Regions from separate parts of the Homo sapiens genome. Here region 2 is linked to region 1. A link means that fine-mapping ties the variant in region 1 to the expression of a gene that starts in the linked region. Tissue or cell type: whole blood. Region 1 holds a variant in brackets; the other region holds the start of a gene. All regions are shown on one strand. Distances are from middle to middle.

Region 1 (4,928 bases):
AACCGGATCCCAACCGGTCAACTTGTGTGTCCTCTTTCCTTCCCAAGTGGGAAAGAAAATCTCCAGCCTGCCTCCCCCTCCCTTCTCCCTGGTGTTAGCAGGGGCTGGGGATTAGCGCCTGTACCCAGCCAGGGTCAGGGCAGCTGAGCTGGTGGGGGTGGAGGAAAGCTCTCCCTAGAGGTAAACTCGAGAAGCAAACCCGAAGCAACCTACTAATAGCGGCTGCTGGGCCTGAGCCCTCCTGACCTTCCACTCCCACTGCCTGCACAGCCTCAGCAGCCCCCTCCCCCATCGGTTCTAGTTCACAGCTCAGTGTCCATGGTATCTCTACGGGGCCGGGAAGGCCCGAGGCCGGCGGCCTAACCCTCAGAATGCCCTTTGCAGAGGGTTGGGACCTATCAGGAGTGCACTGAGCAGCACGGCTCAATGCTTAAGGAGATTAACCCCAACTGGTACACACCCAAAATAGCCCTGGAGGCTAGGGTGAAGAGGGCAGAAGAGGTGACGGGGGCCTGTTGACCCAGGGAGGCAAAAGCAGGCACCGGAGAGGGTTAGACTGTTAAAATCTCGCCCTGAAATTTGAAACTGCCTCCATCCAGAGTTTGAAAAAGCAACTGCTTGTTTCTTAAACTAGGTGGTACAATCCACAGGTGTTTGTTTTAAATATTGTTATTATACGTTTTCTTCTGTATGTATATAATATTTAAAGAATTTTGAGGGCAGGTGTGATGGCTAATACCTGTAATCTCAGCACTTTGGGAGGCTGAGACAGGAGGATCACTTGAGTTCAGGAGCTCGAGACTAGCCTGGGCAACATAGCAAGACCCCATCTCTAAAAAATTAAAAATTAAATTAAAAAAAAAGAATTTTACCAGCCTGGCCAACATGGGGAAACCCCATCTCTACTAATAATACAAAAAAAAAAATGGCCAGGCACGGTGGCTCACACCTGTAATCCCAGCACTTTGGGAGGCCAAGGCGGGTGGATCACCTGAGGCTGGGAGTTCAAGACCAGCCTGACCAACATGGAGAAACCCCTTCTCTATTAAAATACAAAATTAGCCAGGCATAGCGGCACATGTCTGTAATCCCAGCTACTAGGGAGGCTGAGGCAGGAGGATTGCTTGAACCCGGGAGGCGGAGGTTACGGTGCGCCGAGATCGTGCCATTGCACTCCAGCCTGGGCAACAAGAGCAGAATTCCGTCTCAAAAAAAAAAAAAAAAATGCTGGGCGTGGTGGTGCATGCCTGTAGTCCAGCTACTTGGGAGGCTGAGGCAGGAGAATCACTTGACCCGGGAGGCGGAGGTTGCAGTGAGCTGAGATCGAGCCACTGCTCTCCAGCCTGGCTGACAGAGCAAGACTCCATCTCAAAAAAAAAAAAAAAAGACTTTGAGCAAGTGAGGCATTAGTGCCTGCTCCCACCCTCAGTGCTGCCCTCTGGGTGCCTGCCTTCTCCTTACTGGGACAGTAGGTATAAGAGCTTGGTTAGGCCGGGTGCCGTGGTTCATGCCTGTAATCCCAGTGCTTGGGGAGGCCGAGGCGGGTGGATCACGAGATCAAGAGATCGAGACCAGCCTGGCCAACATGGTAAAACCCCATCTCTACTAAAAATACAAAAATTAACTGGGTGTGGTGGCGCATGCCTGTAGTCCCAGCTGCTCGGGAGGCTGAGGCAGGAGAATCCCTTGAACCCAGGAGATGGAGGTTGCAGTGAGCCGAGATCGTGCCGCTGTACTCCAGCCTGGCAACAGAGCAAGACTCCATCTCAAAAAAAAAAAAAAAAAAAAAAGAGCTTGGCTGGATGGAAAATGCAAGAGGGAGGCAGGACAGATGGACAGGACCAAGGAGCACTTGTAAAATAAGATGGCTCACCAGTGAGAGCGGGATATAGATGGTTAAGAGGTGGGGTCTGAGTCCCACTAACCAAGGGGAGGTTGCTCCCAGCATCAGAGAAGGCTGGAGGCTTCAGGGATTCTGGGAGCTTCATGGTCCCCAGGCTGGGACAAGAAGGTGAGGACAAAGCCCCGGTCTTATCTGTCTATCCTCCTTCAGTCTCTCTTTCTCTCCCCCAGGAGACTTTAGAGTATCTTTGTCAGACCGTGTCAGCATATCTACAGCTGGGCCCAGAGTGTGCAGAGCCTGAATGAAGCACACCAAGAGATAGGCAGTCTACACACATGTGTATACACACACACACACACACACACACACAGCAGGAGCAGAGGAACAACACACAGCGCCATGCATGGGGGACAGGAGTGGCGACGCTAATATTTACATGCCTGCCAAGTTGGATAAACAGGAATATCCTGAGCCATAGAATGCAGGCCTTTCCAGATCAGGCCCTTCCTTATTTATTGGACCACTTTTGTTTAACCAGCAAAAGAGCAGTGGTCTCCATTCGGTTCATCAGTTCTCCCAATGGCTTGTTAGTGTCTGGGCAGTGCGGTGAGACAGAAAGCCCAGGGGTGTCTGGAATCAGATAGGTCCAGGTTTGAATTCT[G/A]CTCCTGCCCCTTACTGATCCAGTGACTTGGAATAAGTTACCCAAGGAAGAAAGAACATTAACTTGATTGAGTGCCTTCTGGAGCCAAAGGCTTTATCGATGCTATCTCATTAACATAGCTTCTTGAGGCCCAATTACTTCACCTGTCAAGTGGGGATGATAAAATCATCCTTGAAGGGTTATAGTGAAGATTAAATAGGATGAGGCATTGAAAGTGTTTGGCACATCACGAGAGACCTTCTTTCCTCACTCTAAACTCTTCAGAGTTTGTACCTGTATATCTGCCAAATCAACATTATTTTATCTCTCACGAAATTAAAAAAAAAAAAAACCATCAGTGAGTGTGAAGGAATGATGAAGAGAGAGGGGAAGGGGAGGAAGGAAAGCAGGGAGGCAGGGCTTATGTAATTACTCGCTGCCTGGCCCCAGCAGCCTGATTTCTTTGAGCCTCTGCCTAATTTATTTTATGTCACAGGCTCAGGGGCCCAAACTGAGTTGCTGGGTTGGAAAAAGACAGAGTGAAAGGAGATTAGGAGAAGATTTTGAGGTGGATTCTCCTTGTCTGCAGGCTTCCACCCCAGCACAAGCTCAGAAAAGCCAAGGCTGCTTTGGGAGAACTTGGCTTCAGCTGTCCCTGGGGCCCACTGCAGAAAGAACAAGCCGGGTTGTCGGGATGCTGTTTACAAACAGCTAGGAATAGAAGCACCTCCTGTTCCCACACCCTTCCACCACCCTTTCATGGACAGCCCACAGGCTCCTTCTGATTGTTACTTCAATAGGCCTTCCTTTGAGATCAAGCCGGCAGGGCTGGCAGGACCCCTGTCCCTGAGACTGGCAGGTGAAAGGTGCTACATCCTCAGGCAGAAATTCCCAGGGAAGCTCTGAGTGCAGACTATATGAGTCTAGTGGTTAGAATAGTCTCCTCAGGGGCCAGCTAGACCTGGGTGCAGATCCAGCTCTGCTGGTTGCTGGCTGAATGACCCAAACAAGTGACTTCACGTCTTGGAGCCTGAGTTTCCTCACCTATAAAATGGAAATTACGGCCGGGCGCGGTGTCTCATGCCTGTAATCCCAGCACTTTGGGAGGCCGAGGCGGGCAGATCACCTGAGGTGGGGAGTTTGAGACCAGCCTGACTACCATAGAGAAACCCCGTCTCTACTAAAAATACAAAATTAGCCGGGCGTGGTGGCACGTGCCTGTAATCCCAGCTACTCGGGAGGCTGAGGCAGGAGAATTGCCTGAACCCAGGAGGCAGAGGTTGTGGTGAGCTGAGATGGTGCCATTGCACTCCAGCCTCGGCAACAAGAGCGAAACTCCATCTCAAAAAAAAAAAAAAAGGAAATTACAATGCTTAGTCATAGGATAGTTATGAGGTTTCAGCAAAATAATCCACATAAAGCACTAAGCAGAGTGCTGGGTTGGAAACCTAGTAGTAAAGGCCCATGAACATTAGTTTCCTCCCTTCCCTTCACTCCTATCCGCTCCTCCCATTCCCATTCTCTTCATTCGTTTTATACACAGAATTCATGAATCATGCTTTATGTTTACAAGGAGGGAGGAGGACTCCATTAAATCATTAATTTGCCAGCTCTTTAATGAGTTCCTATTATGTACTTTCTAAATGCCAGGATAGAGTAGTGAACAAGAGAGACAAGGTTCTTGCCCTCATAGAGGTTACAGTCTATGTTTGTTTGTTTGTTTTTGAGACAGGATCTCACTCTGTTCCCCAGGATGGAGTGCAGTAGCATGATCTTGGCTCACTGCAACTTCCATCTCATGGGCTCAAGCAATCCTCCCGCCTCAGCCCCCAGAGTAGCTGGGACTACAGTTGTGCACCACCATGCCCAGCTAATTTTTTTGTATTTTTAGTAGAGATGGGGTTTCACCATGTTGCCCAGGCTGGTGTCGAACTCCTGGGCTCAAATGATCTGCCCACCTCAATCTCCCAAAGTGCTGAGATTACGGGCATGAGCCACTGTGTTTTTTGTTTTTTTGTTTTTGTTTTTTTTTGTTTGTTTGTTTGAGACAGGATCTTACTCTGTTGCCCAGGCTGGAGTAGAGTAGTGCAATCTCAGTTCATTGCAGCTTCAAACTCCTGAGCTCAAGGGATCCTCCTGCCTCAGCCTCCCAAGTAGTTAGGACTACAGGTGTGTCCCACCGCGCCCAGATAATTTTTAAATTATTTGTAGATACTGGGGTCTCCCTATGTTGCCAAGGCTGGTCTTGAACTCCTGGGCTCAAGTGAGCCTCCTGCCTTGGCCTCCCAAGTGCTGGGATACGGGCATGAGCCACCACACCTGGCCAAGGTTACATTTTAATGGGTGAGACAGACAATATATATATTTCCATATGCAGATCATATGTAGCATGCATACACATAACATGTAACATATGACATATATCTTCTAAAAAAGAGTAATGTC
Region 2 (4,928 bases), 50 kb after region 1:
GAGGTGGAGGAAGTCTGGGAGAGGGAATCTGAGAATGAGAGAGGCACAGGGGAGGTCGCAGGGCAAGGGGTGGGGGAAGGCAGCAGCAAGGGGCTCCAGATTGCTTACTTACCTGCAGGGTTGTAGACTGGGGGCCCAGCTGGGTAGAGTGGATATTGGGGAGCAGGACCACTAGGTGGGTATATGAAGCCAGGCTGTGGGGGTGCAGGGCCAGCTTTGGGGTCCTGGGGGTATGGGTATACTGGCTGCACTGGGATGCCTGTCATTGGAATCTCCTGGCCTAGATGGGGGAGAAGGATCAGCATTCAGAGACCCATCTCCTATGGGAAGCCTCCTCCTCCTGCCCAGGAAACCAAGGTAAGCACCCTGGTGCTGGCCTCTGGCAAGCTCCAGGCTGGCCATCTTTGCCTCCCACACCCTGCTTGGCAGAGTTAAGCAGGGAGCTGTGCACGTGGCCCCAGCTGGTCAATCTGTGTTGAGCAAGTTTGCTCCCCTCAGCAGGTTTCAGAGACCTCATGAACCAGGGAGCACAGCCCAGGGAATATCTCACTTGGGCAAGAAGGGGACAGCTCAGGGCTGGTATCCTGTAATCCAGCAGAGCTGCCACTAAGAGGGTCTTCTCCTAGCCCTTCCCTCCCACACTGATCTCCCGTATGGCATCACTGTCCCCATGTCCATCAGGTTGTGGCATATGTGCATCACATGCCAACACTCAGGCACATATTTTGCCATCCACTGGAGCACACTCAATTAATGTTCATCACTACAGACCTGACCCCGTGTACTTACTAAGAGTCATATGTATGCATACACCCACTGCACCCACTATTGTTGACAGACTGCACTCCTGTACACATTTGAATCTTCATGTGTATGCACAGAAATGCACACAAAGTCTGATGTTCCATATATCCCAGGCACATTCTAATATTCACGGGTTTACAAGCATTTTTCTGGGTTTTCATGCTGGCAGGTGTGTGTATACAGAAGCACATACTACTACAGAATTTACCCAATCCATGAACTCTCTGCTGCCCATTATTGGACTTAGCCCAGCCCATCTGAGGCCCTTCTTGCCCAGTACTGGGTGTACCTTCAAATGGGCTCTGGAGCTGCTGGCGCCGGCGGTACAGGTAGCAACAGGAACAGAGGAAGCAGCAGATGGTGGTGGCAACCACAGCAACAAAGAGGATCACAGCTGAGGCGATGCCTGCTATGGTCTTGGGGCTTTAGACAAAGAACAGGTCCTCTCACCTTCCAACACTCATAGGACGGAGTCCTCATTATGCTGGCTCCAACTCCTGGCCAGCAGGGGGGCCATGGCATGCTGAGATTTGGGGTTCCTTGTGGGGCTCTGCCCAGTCCCTGTGAAGGAGATCTTAGAGGACCTCCACTTCCCAGAAGGCTATGCTGCCTGGCTGGCTAGTGTGAAGCATACGGGGATTTGCAGTGCGCCCCCAACCATTGCTTTTATATCTACAACTTAAATGATTAGACATACAGCATAACACTGAAAGGAGCCTTAGAAATAATCTAGAGCCATTTTTTCCAAACCCCGCTTCAATCAGAAGTCTCTATATCTATTTTATATATGATATATTAAAAAAAAGTTTGACAACCACTAATTTGGCAAGCAATGACCCATAGAAGGCAAGTGTCTTCTCCAAGATCACACAGCTAGTAAGAAGTGGACCTGGGAATCAAACCCAAGTCTCCTGCCTTTGTGCCAGAGCTTCTTCCACAAAGCTACACTGTCGTCCGGGTGTTAACCTTGAACCCTCCCTCCCCATGACCTGGCAGGACCAAAGGGAGGGCTCCAGAAAGAACCTGGAAACCCCGGGCCCAGTCAAAGCCTATGAAGGTAACTAACATGCCTTTTCTGGAACTCCCAGGCACCAGCACCTAAGCACCTAGCTCTGCCGCCAGGCTTGAGTCCTGGTGACTCTATTCAGCTAAGAATGTGGAGGTCGACAACGGAGGAGGCAGGAGTCCGGGAGGGAGGAAGAGGAGGCCTCTGGAGAAAAGGATAGAGGAGGTGGTGAGGGTGAGGAGGCAGGAACCCACCTGAAGGCCAGGCAGTGCTTCTGCTGCCTCTCGGTGATAAGCAAGGTCAGGTCCCTGCAGCAGTACCGATGGTAGCAGGTCCCGCAGCAGAAGGTGAAGAACTCGCAGTTAAACCCCGGATGCCAGGAGCCATTCCGGTCCAGGTACCACAGGCAGTCCTCGCCGGCCAGCACTGCGGGCAGGGATTGGGGGTGCCCAGTGGCCACCAGGCCAGTTCATCCCCAGCCGCGCTCGGCCCCACTCCCCCGGCGGTCCCCAGCCTGACGGCTCCCGAACACTGAGGGTTGCCCCTTGTCTCCACCCTGAGGGTCTCAGCCCCAGAGCCCCCGAGGCCTCTGCCTGAAGCTGACCCTGCACCCCGGGATCAGCCTCCCATGGCCCAGCATCCTGGAGCTCCCTCTTCCCGCTTCTTGAGGACCCAGCAACACCCAAGGCTCCCGTGGCAGCCGGAGGGTCTCGGAGAAGCCCCGAGCCCAAGCCCCTCGGATCGGTCCCTCCCCTTCCTCCGCCCCCATCCCACTCCTGCCGCATCTCTCCCCATCCCCTTACCCAGGGGAGCCCCCAGCACCAACAGAGCGATTGCGGTGAGCGGCGCGGCCCGGCGGAGCCCCGCGGGTGGCATGGTGGGGGCTGGGCGCGGCCGGGGTCGGGCCTCCCAGAGAAGGGACCGCAGGACCAAGCCGGCCAGCTGGAGCTGCGGCGGGGCCCAGCCCGCGGCCAGGCTCGGGCTCCTCTTCCGCCTCCTCTGGGGGTGGGACTAAGCGCCCCGCCCGCGCTAACCCAGCCGGCGCGGCTCCGCGCAGCGCCCAGGAGTCCACCCACCAGCGACGCCCACCTAGCCTCTGGAGCTGGGTGCCCCTCACCCAGCAGAGCACTGCCCTGCTCCCCCTGTCCCCGGCTCCGCGGTGGTTCCTCCCATCCGAGCCACCATGGGCACTGCGGGCAGTTGGGCACTGCGGCCAGGGAAGCCTGGCTGTGTCCTGGACCCGCCCCCGGCCTGGGCCCAATCACTATGCTGGACTCCAGAAGCCCTGATCCTGGTGCCACCTCCGAATGCCCAGACACATGGGCCAACCCTGGAGGAGCAGGGCTGGACCTTCACTTGTGGGGGACCTCCTCTGCCGCGTCCAGCCTGGGACATCCTGTCGGGGGCGGAGAGGGAAAGAGGCTGGATGTCACCCCGCCCCCATTCCCAGAACACAAGCACTCATTGAGAGGCATTCAGAGTGGCTTTGTCCCCAGCGGTGCCCACAGGCCTGAACCCTGCCAGCTGCACTGGCTCCCTACGATGGACCCTTCCCCCTTCAAGTGGACAGAGCTGGCATGCACCAGCCCATGGCCTCACTAGCAGGGAAGGCAGGCTGCTGGGGCCACCTGGGGCCCATCCAGTTAAACACTCTTCACAGTGAAAGCCCTTCACAGAGCAAGCCTGTACTGCAATAGCCACCGGAGCATAGGGAGGGCAACAGTTAATTTCAGGTGGGCAACAGTTAATTCCAGGTGGAGACAGTGTTTTAGGATGGGAGAGGTCAGTCTTCACAGGTTTATACTGAGTGCCAGTGACTATGCCCCATGCTACATGAGGTACCCTCCGAGGAACTGCAAATTAAGCCAGGGAGATCATCAAAAGCCTACCTTAATCCCCTGCCATGTACACCCTTTCACACACTTCTGGGCTTCCACATCTACCTCACTGGAATCTTTCCACAACTCCATGAACTAAGCAAGGTTCATCAGTGTTATCAATCGCATTTCACAGACTGAGAAACTAGGACTCATGGAGGTTAAAGAACTTGTTCAAGGTAATACAGCCAGTAAATGGTAGAGGCATCAGGAAGACCCAAATCTAAATCAGGGTTGATCCCCAGCCGCAACAGCAGACAGTGTAGACAGTGAGTATTTCTTGTGTTCTGGGGTGAGAGAATCAGGACAGGTCCATGGAAGGCCCAGTAGAATCTTAGTAGGTTAGGGAAGGACAGCCGAAAGAGGAGCTACCCCATCCTGGGCCCCTGTGGGTGCTGGCACACCTACCCAAGAGAGCTGGAATAGGAGAGGATAGGCTCCTGCCCCAGAAAGTTGCTGGTAGCCTGATGGGCAAGAGTATGTCCTCACGCAGGACACAGTCATAAATGCAGCAGCAGGGACAAAGAGAAACGCCTCTGAATCCAGCACCACCTACTCAGTGTGCCCATTGCCATCCATCTCCTCTTTCCTACACTAAAAGCTCCATGACTGCAGGGACCACGTGGCTGTGTTCAATGTGGCCATCCAGCCCTAGCCATCAGTGTTGTCATTGTTGGTTGAATCATCTTCAGATAAGGGACTGTCTTTCCTGCCCAGAGCTGAATCTCCCATGTGTACCCTTGACCCCTGCTGATTTGTCTCTTCATTATCCCATCTCTTTAGTGTCTTTAGCTTCTCACACCTTACCAGCTTCTTTTCCCTAGGAAATCTCAAGTCTCTCCTATTTAAAGCAAAGCAAAGCAAAGCAAACCAAACCAAACCACATCCTTCCTAAAACTCATCCCTCTCTAGCTACTTTCCTGCTTTTTTCTCCAACTAGCCTTCCTCAAAGTGTATACCCCTAGTTGACACGCCCTCCTCAAAGTGTATACCCCTAGTTGACACTTCCAGCTTGCAATGACACCTAGCACGCACCAACATCATCAGTGATTTTCTAATTGCAAAATTCTAAGAATGTGTTTCAGTTCATGGGATGGGAGGTGACTAGACTAGGACAGAGAGTGAAGAGAGGGGGCTGTGGGCCAACCAGAGGGGAGAACTGGCTGCACTGGGAGAACTGGCACTTCTTACCTTGACAAGGGATGCTGGAGCTCGGAGATGGAGAGCTGGGGCTAGCTTAT

What was found. PIP is the estimated chance that this variant, and not a neighbour inherited with it, causes the effect.
Region 2: it holds the start of SHISA4, and the variant in region 1 is fine-mapped to the expression of SHISA4 in whole blood (TOPMed, PIP 0.96).

What each region holds. Positions count from the first base shown.
Region 1 is chr1:201,937,046-201,941,973 of GRCh38, reverse strand. All of the region lies in intron 1 of LMOD1 (leiomodin 1), which reads left to right. Among named protein-coding and RNA genes, the nearest start is that of LMOD1, 7.0 kb to the left of the region's middle. RefSeq lists an enhancer at 1-523. The variant G/A (reference allele first, on the strand shown) is at 2,505.
Region 2 is chr1:201,886,753-201,891,680 of GRCh38, reverse strand. SHISA4 (shisa family member 4) reads right to left here and starts at 2,783. Exons shown (of 5, transcript NM_198149.3): 1 at 2,614-2,783; 2 at 2,065-2,236; 3 at 1,094-1,227; 4 at 113-280. The coding sequence starts at 2,686. RefSeq lists enhancers at 2,646-2,940, 2,781-3,290.